Linked DNA regions of Homo sapiens: region 1 is linked to region 2. Evidence: fine-mapped expression QTL. Tissue or cell type: lung. Region 2 holds a variant in brackets; the other region holds the start of a gene. All regions are shown on one strand. Distances are from middle to middle.

Region 1 (5,384 bases), 17 kb before region 2:
TAATTGACATGATGAGCAGCAAGGAGCAAATATCGTACATGCCTTAATAAGACAAATGTATGCCAGGGGGTGGGAGATGATCCCCAAGAAAAATCAAACGCCTATTGCTTTGGTGAAGATTCTAGGGGTCCAGTGTGGTCTGGAGAATATTGGCATTTCCTCTCCAAAGTGAAAGACAAATTACTGTACTTTGTACCACCTATCACGAAGAAGAGCTATAATATTCTGTGGGTCTTTTTATTTTTGAGGTAACATAAACACTTTTAGAGTCTATTGTTCAGAGCAATGTTGTGAGTTACCTACTACGCTGCAAGTTTTGTCTAGGGACCAGTGCAAAAAAGGGCTCAAGAGAGAGCAGGGTTTCTCAGTCTTGGCACTATTGACATTTACGGGACAGGCAATTCTTTGCTGTGGGGCGGGCCTGTGCATTGCAGGATGTTTAATAGCATGCCTGGCCTCCACCTACCAGATGTTAGTAGCATCACTCCCCATAGTTTTGAGAACTGAAAATGTCTGCAGACATTGCCAAATATTTTCTGGGGTGCAAAATCACCCCCATTTGAGAACCATTGGGCTACAGCATGTCTAGTTAAGCTTTAAGGTGAGAATCATTGGGCTACAGCAGGTCTAGTTAAGCTTTAAGGTGACTACAGTACTGGCTGACAACTGGACTGCAGCCTCGTGAGAGACCCTCAGCCAGATTCTCCCAACTGTGCTGTTCCCAGATTCCTGACCCTCAGAAACAATGTAAGATGATAAATGCATGTTGTGAAGTTTTGGGGTAATTTATTACTCAGGAAACTCAGACAACTAATACACCAGTCCTCTGAGCCATAAGGTTAGGCATGCATGGCAGAAATCCATCATCAGGTGTAAGTAGTAAAATAGTATATACCAGGTTCGGTTTGAGCAGGTCCTTCAGGCACAAGTAAGTTTCAAGAGCAAGTGGCTGTGACTTCCATAGCATCTATTCTTGCTGCAATTTTAATTCACCATCAGTCCACATCTGTGACCTCTTAGGATTGACTGTTGACAGACTAAGAAAACATTTGGGCCTGGTTCGCAGATGGTCCCTTGCAGTTTGCAGGCACCAGGTAGATGTGGACTGCTGAAGCATTGCAGCCCAAATCAGGAACGTGGTAAGAGGAGCTCTCTCAGGACCAAACACTGAGCATGTTATCTGGAGGGAGAGATGGCCAGAAGTCGAGATATATACCAATTGATGGGTCATTAATGGTTTTATTAGCATACTGGTGACAACGAAGTCTAGGAAAAAGGTTTGCAGATGGACCTTTCCCTATGGGCACTATCACATATGAATTCTCATTAGAGGGCATCCACTGATGAGGCCCTCAGCAGTCCACTGACAGGATAGCCTGTTCTGTGGATGTCAGTCAGTCCATTTCCAGCAACCCCGAGGCTTGCTTAATAGGCTCATGAAGAGCATGGCCATTGTGGCAGGGAGAGAAGCCAGACATGAGTTCAACAATGTGGACTTCCCCTCATCAAACTGGTCTGGCTCCTGTCACTGATAAATGACTAACTTGCTGACAGGGGCTCTACCATCTCTGAGTCTCTGATGTGGAGTCATTCCCCAGGGGGACCAGTCAGCCATCAGATTATTGCATGGAACTTCTATTATGAAGGACATGATTTTGTCCTCTAGAATAGACACTATTTATTTTTTCTTTCTTTCTTTTTAAATAGAGACAGGGTCTCACTCTGTCACCCAGGCTGGAGTGCAGTGGTGCAATCATAGCTCACTATAACCTTGAACTCCTGGGCTCAAGTGATCCTCCTGCCACAGCCTCCCAAGTAGCTAGGACTACAGGCACTCACCACCATGCCCAGCTCTTTTTTAAAAAAAATTTTTTTGTTCAGACAGGGTCTCGCTATGTTGCCCAGGCTGGGACACTATTTCTAAATATGCTGTGCATTCACTGCCTGCAGTGGGTTTATCAGTACCACCATCTGTGAACTTAACACAGAGCCTTATTTAATAGCATGATGATTATGACCAAAGAAGTTCTTTGCTTGTGACCAAAGAACTAATTTTACAGCAAAAGTAGTACAGCATTGGTATCATGCCCATGGGACTTATTGGATTACCATGTACTCCAGCACCCAAAGGTAGTTATCATTACAAAATTTAGAAATAGATAACTGAAGTTTCAAAAATGGTACCATCTGGAAGATAACTGCCTGCAGTCTAGGTGGCTTTCTTACTGCACGTAGATTATGCTTTGAATCAGCAAATGAGTGATGCTATGTCTCTCATAGTCAGGATACACAGACCTGGGAGTCAAGGGGTAAAAATGAGAGTGGCTACTCTCACTATCACATCCTGAATATCACTCACAGAATATTTGCCCTCCTTCTACAAAACATAGATCAGCTGGTTTAAAGGTCTTGATTCCTAGGAGAGAACGCTTCCTCTAGGGGAAACAATAACGTTCCACTGAACTGGAATTCGATACTTCTGTCTGCCCATTTCAAGTTTCTTCTGCCACTAAATGGACAGGCAAAGAAGAGGGTTACTTTTCTGGCTGGGGTGACTGAACAGAATTATTACCAGGGAGTAATTGGGTTGCCGTGACACACAATGGTGGCAGAGAGGACTATGTCTGAAGCCCTGGAAATTCTCCTGGGTGCCTCTTAGCACTTCCATGTCCAAGAGTAAAAGTTTCTGGAATAATATTGCAACCTGCAGGACAGCTAAAGACTTAGACCCTTCAAAAATGAAGGTTTCAATAATCTTGCCAAGAAAAGAACCCCAGACAACTAACTTCAGTTGCTGGCTGAAGGTAAAAGGAAGATGGAATGGACGTTGGAAGAAGTTCATTCTCAATTATTATTTAACTATTATCATCATCAGTCAACTAGTTTTGTTACCAGTCACCAAAACAAAACCCGTAGCAGCTATGCACATTTTCTTCTTTGTTTACTCTGCATAACACTGAGTGTTGGTGGTTAATTTTACAACTTAGCCTTTAGGTTGTAGAACATCCATTATAAAAGGTGCAATGGTGTCTGAAAGGAAAAAATTTAACATCACCCTGGGATGAATACAGTGGCTGAGGCCACTATCTTACAGGGTTTTACTCTGAATTATCTGTTTTAGGGAGAGAGTGAACTTGTGTTCATCTGTGTGAGGAATAAAATTGCATTCTGTGAGGAAGAAGTGTGATGTTGCTGTAGGGTGCGTACAATGGAATGTGTGGATGCTGAGTAGCAAAAGGGTGGATGTGCTGGATTGTGTCTCTTGACTCTTAAGTCCAAGTCCACCCTTCTGGATAATCCTCCATCCTCTTTCCCAGACTCACTCATCCAGCTGGTTTCATGGGAGGCGCTGGTGCTAGGTTCCAGTGTGGGAGGAGGAGATTAGCCATTTTCCCCAGCTGGCCTGGACTGCCTGTGCTCTGGGCTCCAGCAATCCGGGGATAGTTTCAGCAAGATCAACACTGAGTATCCCTGACAGGATTCAGCCAAGGGCCAGTGGCAGCTTCCCAGCCTCTTTGGGTAAGAGCCCCTTCTTTTTTTGCTCCTCAGTCCTTCCAGTAGTTTTTAACCAATTTCCTGTGTTCCATCCTACTCTGCTTGAGATATATAGAGAGGTTTCTACTTTTGTGTTTGAGCACTGAATGATACATAGTTCCTTCCATATCAGTCCATAGTGAGCTTCCTCATTCTCTAGTCAAAAAAAAAAAAAAAAAAAAAAAAAAAACCCAAACAAACAAACAAACAAAACAGGAATACATCATATTTATATGAGAAGACCCAATAATGGATATTTAGACTGCTCTCAATCTGCTCTTTTAATCAATAAGAGTAGTAAGTACATTTCCATTTCAGGAAAGTATTATCAAGGCATATATTTGGAAATTTTTGTGTCTTACCCCACTTGGAATTTTACGCGCCAGAGCTCTTATGCAGGAATCTAAATGGCTGAAATAGGATTAAACTAGACTGTGGAATCTAGAGAGCGTTCAACTGCAGCTGGTTATTTATTGCTTAATAAGTATTTTGAAGTATTGTTCGGCTATGTCCTAGCCTTATCTCTTCCAAATGAATTGCAAGCACTCGGAGCTTGATTTTTTGTCATCTTTTGAATATGTAAATGTGTCATGTTGGGAGGGGGGTTGGTAGTACCTCCCTCCTCTGTGATTCATGTCACCTGAATGTGTCATCCTACTGGCAGTCTAGGAAGAGCCCTGCATAGGTCTTAGGTTTTCTCTTGAGGAAGGAGCTCATGACACAGCCAGCACTTCCACATAGGATAGTAGCTCAAATAGAGGTCCAGTTTGTTTTATTATTGGGCTTATTCCAAATTCCTTTCCTGGGGCACTGTGCTTTAGAAATGCTTTTTTCTTAATTATGAAATATTTTAATTGATTTGTGGGCAGTGCCTCTTATTCAGCCTGTGCAGCCAGTCCCTTTGGTCCAGCTCAGGGTTGGAGGACTGCCTGGACCTGTTCAACGCCCTCAGCCCCGTGAGGCCGCCTCAGGCCATCTCACCCATCTGACACTGCTTCCACTGACCACAGAATGAAGGCCTCTTTAGCTCTTTGCTAGCTCCATCCCCCAACTCTGTTTCTTGATTTTATCTTCTTTAATTAATGAAGTGCACTTTTGCTATCTTCTTAACTTTTAGGTATTCAGATGATTCTGCCGTTCCATTTCCAGCTCTTAGACTCGTTGAATGTTCTAAAATGGGAAAGGCTGGGTCCTGTTTATAGTTGCCTTGCCAACTCCCAATCAGCCTTTTCCTAAGGAAGATTTTTCTTTAGCCAGTCTACACTTTCATAGCAACTTAGAGTGTGACAGGAATCCTCAAACATTCAGAAGTGACTTGGCCGGTAGAGATCCGGAGTTGCATTTCTAGCATGAATATCCAGCCTTGTCCCTTGAGGGTTCAACTTTAATAATCTTTAACATAATCCCTTTAAAACACAAATCCCTGGCAGATCCAAGCTGCTTTGGTACAAAAGTTCTAGAGATTAAAACCAAAGCTGCTTTCGGTGGTAGTGCTGTTATACTGTCAATCCCATTGCCAGCCAAATTAACAGCATACATTTCTGATAACCCACCTAATGCTGGTAAGCAATCAATAGCCAGATTCATTTAACTCTCAGAAGCTTAAGTGCTGTTAAATCACATTTCCTGTTCATGGGGCTGAATCCTAGAAGATGTGCAAGAGTTGTTTTTTCAAGTACTCAGTGGAAAAAAGAAAGAAGGCATGTAAAGGAAAAGGTTTTAGTACTTATATGTTATATTGATTATATATAACATTTATATTCACTGTAATATTGAACAAAAATAGTTTATACTGATCATTTACTACACGAAACAGCATTACCTAAGATAAATGGTAACTGATTTGCTAA
Region 2 (5,384 bases):
TCTTCATAGAACTGTATCCTCAAATGAGTTGGCTAGGGTTGCCCCTGGAAAGTCTGCCAACTTCTGCCCCCACCGCCACCTCAGCGCTCCCCACTGGCCTAGTACCTGGGTCAGGGTGATGATAAAAATGAAAACATCTACAATTTCCATGTATTGAGCCATTATCCTGTGCTATTCCCTATGCTAAGTGCTCTGGAAAGATATCAATTCTCTTTATCCACTGTAGCTATGTTCTGTAACATCTATGCAGACAGAATTAGCAAATTCTGAACCATTGCTTCTAAGGCAAATACAGGTTTAGGTTCCTTCAAGCTTGTGGGTCACAACATTCTTGTCACCTGATCAATACATAACCTTAAGTGTGTTTCTTAGTCACCTTTAAAATGTTGATTCATTAACGTGGAACTCAGGGCCAACAGCACTTTAACTCATGCCTGAAAAAAACAAAATACCTGCTTGTATTTTCTCTGTAAGTCGCTTCACAGTCTTCTTGCACACTAGTCAGTACTTCAGCACCGTGCTTGAGGCCATTTTAAAAAGCAAAATCAGCCACAAAAAAAGCACAAAAATGCGAAAAAAATGTGGCACTAAACAGACTTAGCAAAGGACAATTGGGCTGGGTGTGGTGGTTCACACCTGTAATCCCAGCACTTTGGGAGGCCAAGGTGGGAGTATCACCTGAGATCAGGAGTTCAAGACCAGCTTGACCAACATGGCAAAACCCCATCTCTACAAAAATATAAAAATTAGCTGGGCTTGGTGGCGCGCACCTGTAATCCCAGCTACTTGCGAGGCTGAGGCAAGAGAATTGCTTGAATCCGGGAAGCAGAGGTTGCCGTGAGCCGAGATCACACCACTGCACTCCAGCCTGGGCAACAGAGCGAGACTCCGTCTTAATAAGAAAAAAAAAAAAAAAGACGATTTTTTACAGTATGAAAGCTGAAACAAGAAGGCAGAGCGTCTCCTTCTTTGACCCCAGCTGGGAATGTATATGTTGGGCAACTGAAATTTTTTGCCACTCTGTACATGACCTCAAAAGAGCAAGTGTATTGATATTGGGGTTACAAATACATTTTTTAGCAAGTAGACTCCATTTGCAAACATGGAATTCTTGAAATAATGAGGATAAACTGGATCATCTCATAGTACCCTTGTAAATAGGTACTACTCTAGTGACATGTGAACCCAAAAGAACCTCAGAAGTCTCCTCTTCTGGCTACCTTCCTTGAGTTTTTGGGAGGCTGGTATGGTGAAGTGACTTCTCCTAAAACGTCCAGTGCATGTGTGATCCATATGAAACTAAACCCAGGTCTCCCAGCCAGTCAGTGCCCTTTCCAGTACATAGTTATGAGACTAAATACAGCTAATTTAACTTGCAGATGGGGCTATATGAAAAACTTCTTGCGTCCTACCCTGTCCCAGTTTATTCTCTGCAATAATTAAAATCTGCTTTTGATCAGAATATTTGATTTAATGACTTCTAGGACATGGGTACAATGAACAATTTAAAAAGGAAGATCACAAACCTGAACGTAATCAGGCACAACATGAGAAATTAAAAGAATAAACTCCATAAACTATTTGCCGCAAGAACAGGCTTTGACTTTTTAAATTTAATTCTCCAGTGAGCCAGTTCATAGATGGGTAATATGAGAAGGAAGTGATGTGGAAAAATCCACACGTCTTGTAGAATTTCAGAGATGTGAGCACATGATGCATAAATCGAAAAGATGTGCCAGGATGTGACATTTTAGTCAGAAAACTGCTAATGAATGTATATTTATAAATGTATATATTGATGCCAGCTTATCTTAATTTTTTTTGATATTCTAACAATGATACAAAATTAGGTTGTTCTTTATTTGGGGAAAAGAAGTAGAGAATTTGAAGCCCAAATTAAAATGGCTCTTATAACTAATGTAGCCTGCAGGCTCTTTCAGAAGTGTGTACACCTCAAACTCAAAGAAGGAAAAAGAAAATGAAAAGGCAAAGATTAAGTTTGTTCTCTGCATAAGAGCATCTGCTTATCAAGAATTGACTCATCATTACTTTTATATATAATATTTTTATTTCAAAGAATTCTTTTGTTCTAAGACTTTATACATTTGAGAATCTTTTCCCCAAAACTATTATAGCTTCATCCATTTATTTGGGATAATTGAGCTATTCTTATCCAATAATATTTCCAAACACCTTCACGGCATGCCAAACTTCTGTTATTGGCAGAAAAAGATGTTACAGCTTTGTTTGTTACAACTGCACTTTTCACTTACTCTTAGAAGAAATTAAAACTTCCTATTCAAGACCCTAAAATTTCATTTATACATCTTGTCTCAGTGTCACATCATCCATACCTTTCATCCTTTAAGTTAAATAATGTAATTCTTACTCATGTACTCATGTTAATTTTGTAGTAAACATCTCCCCCCAAAAACAAAAGCTCACTTGTTTCAAGGATAATTTTTATTGATGAAAAAAATCTTGCAGATATGAAAAGATAATTTTTTTATTCCTATGACATTTTCTGTTTTTACGATTTTCTTTTCAGCAATGAAAACCTCTGATGTTCTCTTTTGGGAAGGTAGTTTATCCAACATAAGGATCCCATCCTTTTCCATAAATGAATCGATTAATCATGTCAAAAGCTCTCAGAGGCTGGTCATAGGGTAAAATATGTCCTCCACCTCGAATAATTACCTTAAAAAGAAAAAGTAAAAGAACGGAAATTTAGAGAAATGGATATTCTAAATACATGGAAAGTTTTCATTCAGATTAAACTCTATTTAAAACTCACATGAAATACAGAACATATTCTCCCAATGCATGCCTTTGGACAAGCTGCCTATCTGGCTGTTGATGGCTTTTGTAACAGGCATGTTAAGGTAGAAAAGTTTTAAAGCTTAGTTAATTTTACGCAAAGTTGTATTCTTTTCTCATGAGTGTAAAAATTGAAAATTATTCCTTGTCTTTTTCCTCTAGAGAGTGATCTGCCTGCTCCCCGCAGTTGAGAGTGCTGCACTGCAAGTGTTACCTGGTGAGGCCCACCTCCAGCCCACTACTTCTGGGGTATGT[G/C]AGGTCTGCCTGCAATGGGGTGGATTGTCTACTTAATTCCACCCTTCAGTTAGCCAGCCCAATTGTCCCTCACACTGAGCCATACCTTCCATTTTAGCCTTTATCAGTAATGAAGGGGAAATTTTGGTTCTCAAAAAAATTAAAAAACCAAAAACATCCTTGACTGAGGCAGGAAGATGACCTGAACCCAGGAGTTGGAGTCTGCAGTGAGCTAGGATCATGCCACATGCACTGCACTCCAGCCTGGTTGACAGAATGAGACCCCATCTCTTAAAAAAAAAAACCAAAAAACAAAAAAAAAAAAAACAAAACAAAAAACTTGACACTTGAAATGAAAGAAAGTCATGTTTTGAGCAGCATAGAGTTAGAACATTCTTTTTTTTCCTAATATTGGATTATAAAACATTTTAAAACATAGCAAATTCGAAAACAATTCATATAGTGACGATTTTGAGTCATGAACTTTCACTTTACTTGCTTTCTCACATAAGGGTGCCTCTATGCATCCCACACCCATCCACTAATCCATCTTATATTTTTGACACATCTCAAAGTAAAATGGGCATGTAGTGCACTTCCCCCACACACTTCAGCATCACATTATTCATCAGAGTTCAACATGTGTTTACAGATTTTCTTCTTTTGAGTCAAGTTAAGATACAATGAAATGCGCTAGTCTTAAGTGTAGACTCACCAGTTCTGACAAATGCAGACACCTACGTAACCCAAGCCCTTGTTGGGTGATATAAAGCATTCCTAAAACATCTCTAATGATGAGATCCAATCAGCAAAAGGGGACTGGTCTCTGTACTCGTTAAGCCTCTAGCGTCAGCTAATATTCCAAGTAGAGGGAAACGGGAAGCTGTCATGATTCAGTGCCAAAAGGGCAAGGACTGACACTGAGTGTTGGGAAGTTACATGCAGGAGAGGTCAGCCTGGCCTGAGATGTCTCGTTCCATATGTGGAGAATGGACAGGAGGTACCAGTGCATGAAGTGAATAAACGTATGCAAAAAGGACATCACTTTCAGTAACTTCTAGCTGCAGAATCACGATCAGCAATTAAAGGTCACCTTCACAAGGCCCTTCCTAAGAGGCTGGGTTCTTCTACTTGTCTCAATCTGAAGGAAACTGAGGCAGAAAAAGTATATTTGGATAGTACATTTATTATATTGAAAATCTGCCCCTATATCCCAACACCCTCCATCTTACAACCTTGACGTGCAGTAAGTAGGATTAACACTATTAGATGATATTTACCTTGCAGCTCGCAGCTATACAAGCTGTGCACTGAACAACTACAGGGAGCACCATTCACATGAGCATTGAGATGACTGAGCTATTTGGAATTATTCAGTGGCTTGTCCAAGTCACACAATTGTTAAGTGAGATAACTAGCTAGAACCCTGACTTCTGATGCAAACACCGGTGTGGTGTTTTTAATCAAACCCTCTACTCAATCATTCCTTATCTTTGAACTGAAATTTGCAGCTTAGTCACGGAACATTTTTATTCACCTCTCAATAGCCCTCTGAGGTTTATTGATGAAAAAAATTATTGCAGATATAAACATAATTTTCTGTATTTTTGTATTTCACATATTACAGTGAGGGAGGCAGATCCCATTTGCAGATGTGGGACCAGACTTAACTCTTTCACATGCAAATGTGAAACTTTTGTGTTTTGCTGCAGTTGATCAATGGTCATTTGTGCCTCACTGCAATGACTGTGAAACCCATCTACCATTTGTGTAGAAGCTTGCAACTGGAAACCCAGCATGCCCACTTTTTATCACAAACTGAAAGTAAACATGTGTGACAAGAACCCCTTCATAGGACTCCAGAGGGAAACTTTTGCCGCCCCGCAATCCCAGGCTAGACATTTCTTCCTGCAGATTTTCATCCATATCTTTGGCCCTGGCAGGAATCTGATGAGTGATTTCTGTGCAGCTTCAGCTCAGCTGAGGACACTTAACAAAGTCATATGTGTGACAAAACCCAGCTGCTTCAACTGGAAATGAGTTTGGCAGCAATGGTCCGGAACACCAATAAATTGAATACCCAAGAGCTAAAGGTCATCCTGCCCCCAGAACCAGTGCTGCAGCTAACAAAGGACAAACAAAGGATAGCACAGTGCTTCACAGCCTGGGCTCAGAAGTCAGAGTGCAGGAGCATGGCAAGAGGCACTGCACGTTGTGTGACCTTGGGCAAGGAACTTAACCTCACTGAGCCTCAGGTTCCTTTACTTTACAATTGGGAAACAAGTATTACCTCGTGGGGTAGTTGTGAGTTGTGTGAGGAGTTAGTGGAATAA

Evidence for each region. PIP is the estimated chance that this variant, and not a neighbour inherited with it, causes the effect.
Region 1: CPVL-AS2 starts here. The variant in region 2 is fine-mapped to the expression of CPVL-AS2 in lung (TOPMed, PIP above 0.99). The same link has a PIP of 0.9 or more in spinal cord.

Annotation. Positions count from the first base shown.
Region 1 is chr7:28,976,580-28,981,963 of GRCh38, forward strand. CPVL-AS2 (CPVL antisense RNA 2) reads left to right here and starts at 3,388. Exons shown (of 5, transcript NR_038965.1): 1 at 3,388-3,519.
Region 2 is chr7:28,993,186-28,998,569 of GRCh38, forward strand. It overlaps CPVL (carboxypeptidase vitellogenic like), which reads right to left. Exons shown (of 13, transcript NM_031311.5): 13 at 2,050-2,697. The coding sequence ends at 2,587. It overlaps CPVL-AS2 (CPVL antisense RNA 2), which reads left to right. Exons shown (of 5, transcript NR_038965.1): 2 at 2,980-3,066. Among named protein-coding and RNA genes, the nearest start is that of CPVL-AS2, 16 kb to the left of the region's middle. The variant G/C (reference allele first, on the strand shown) is at 3,073.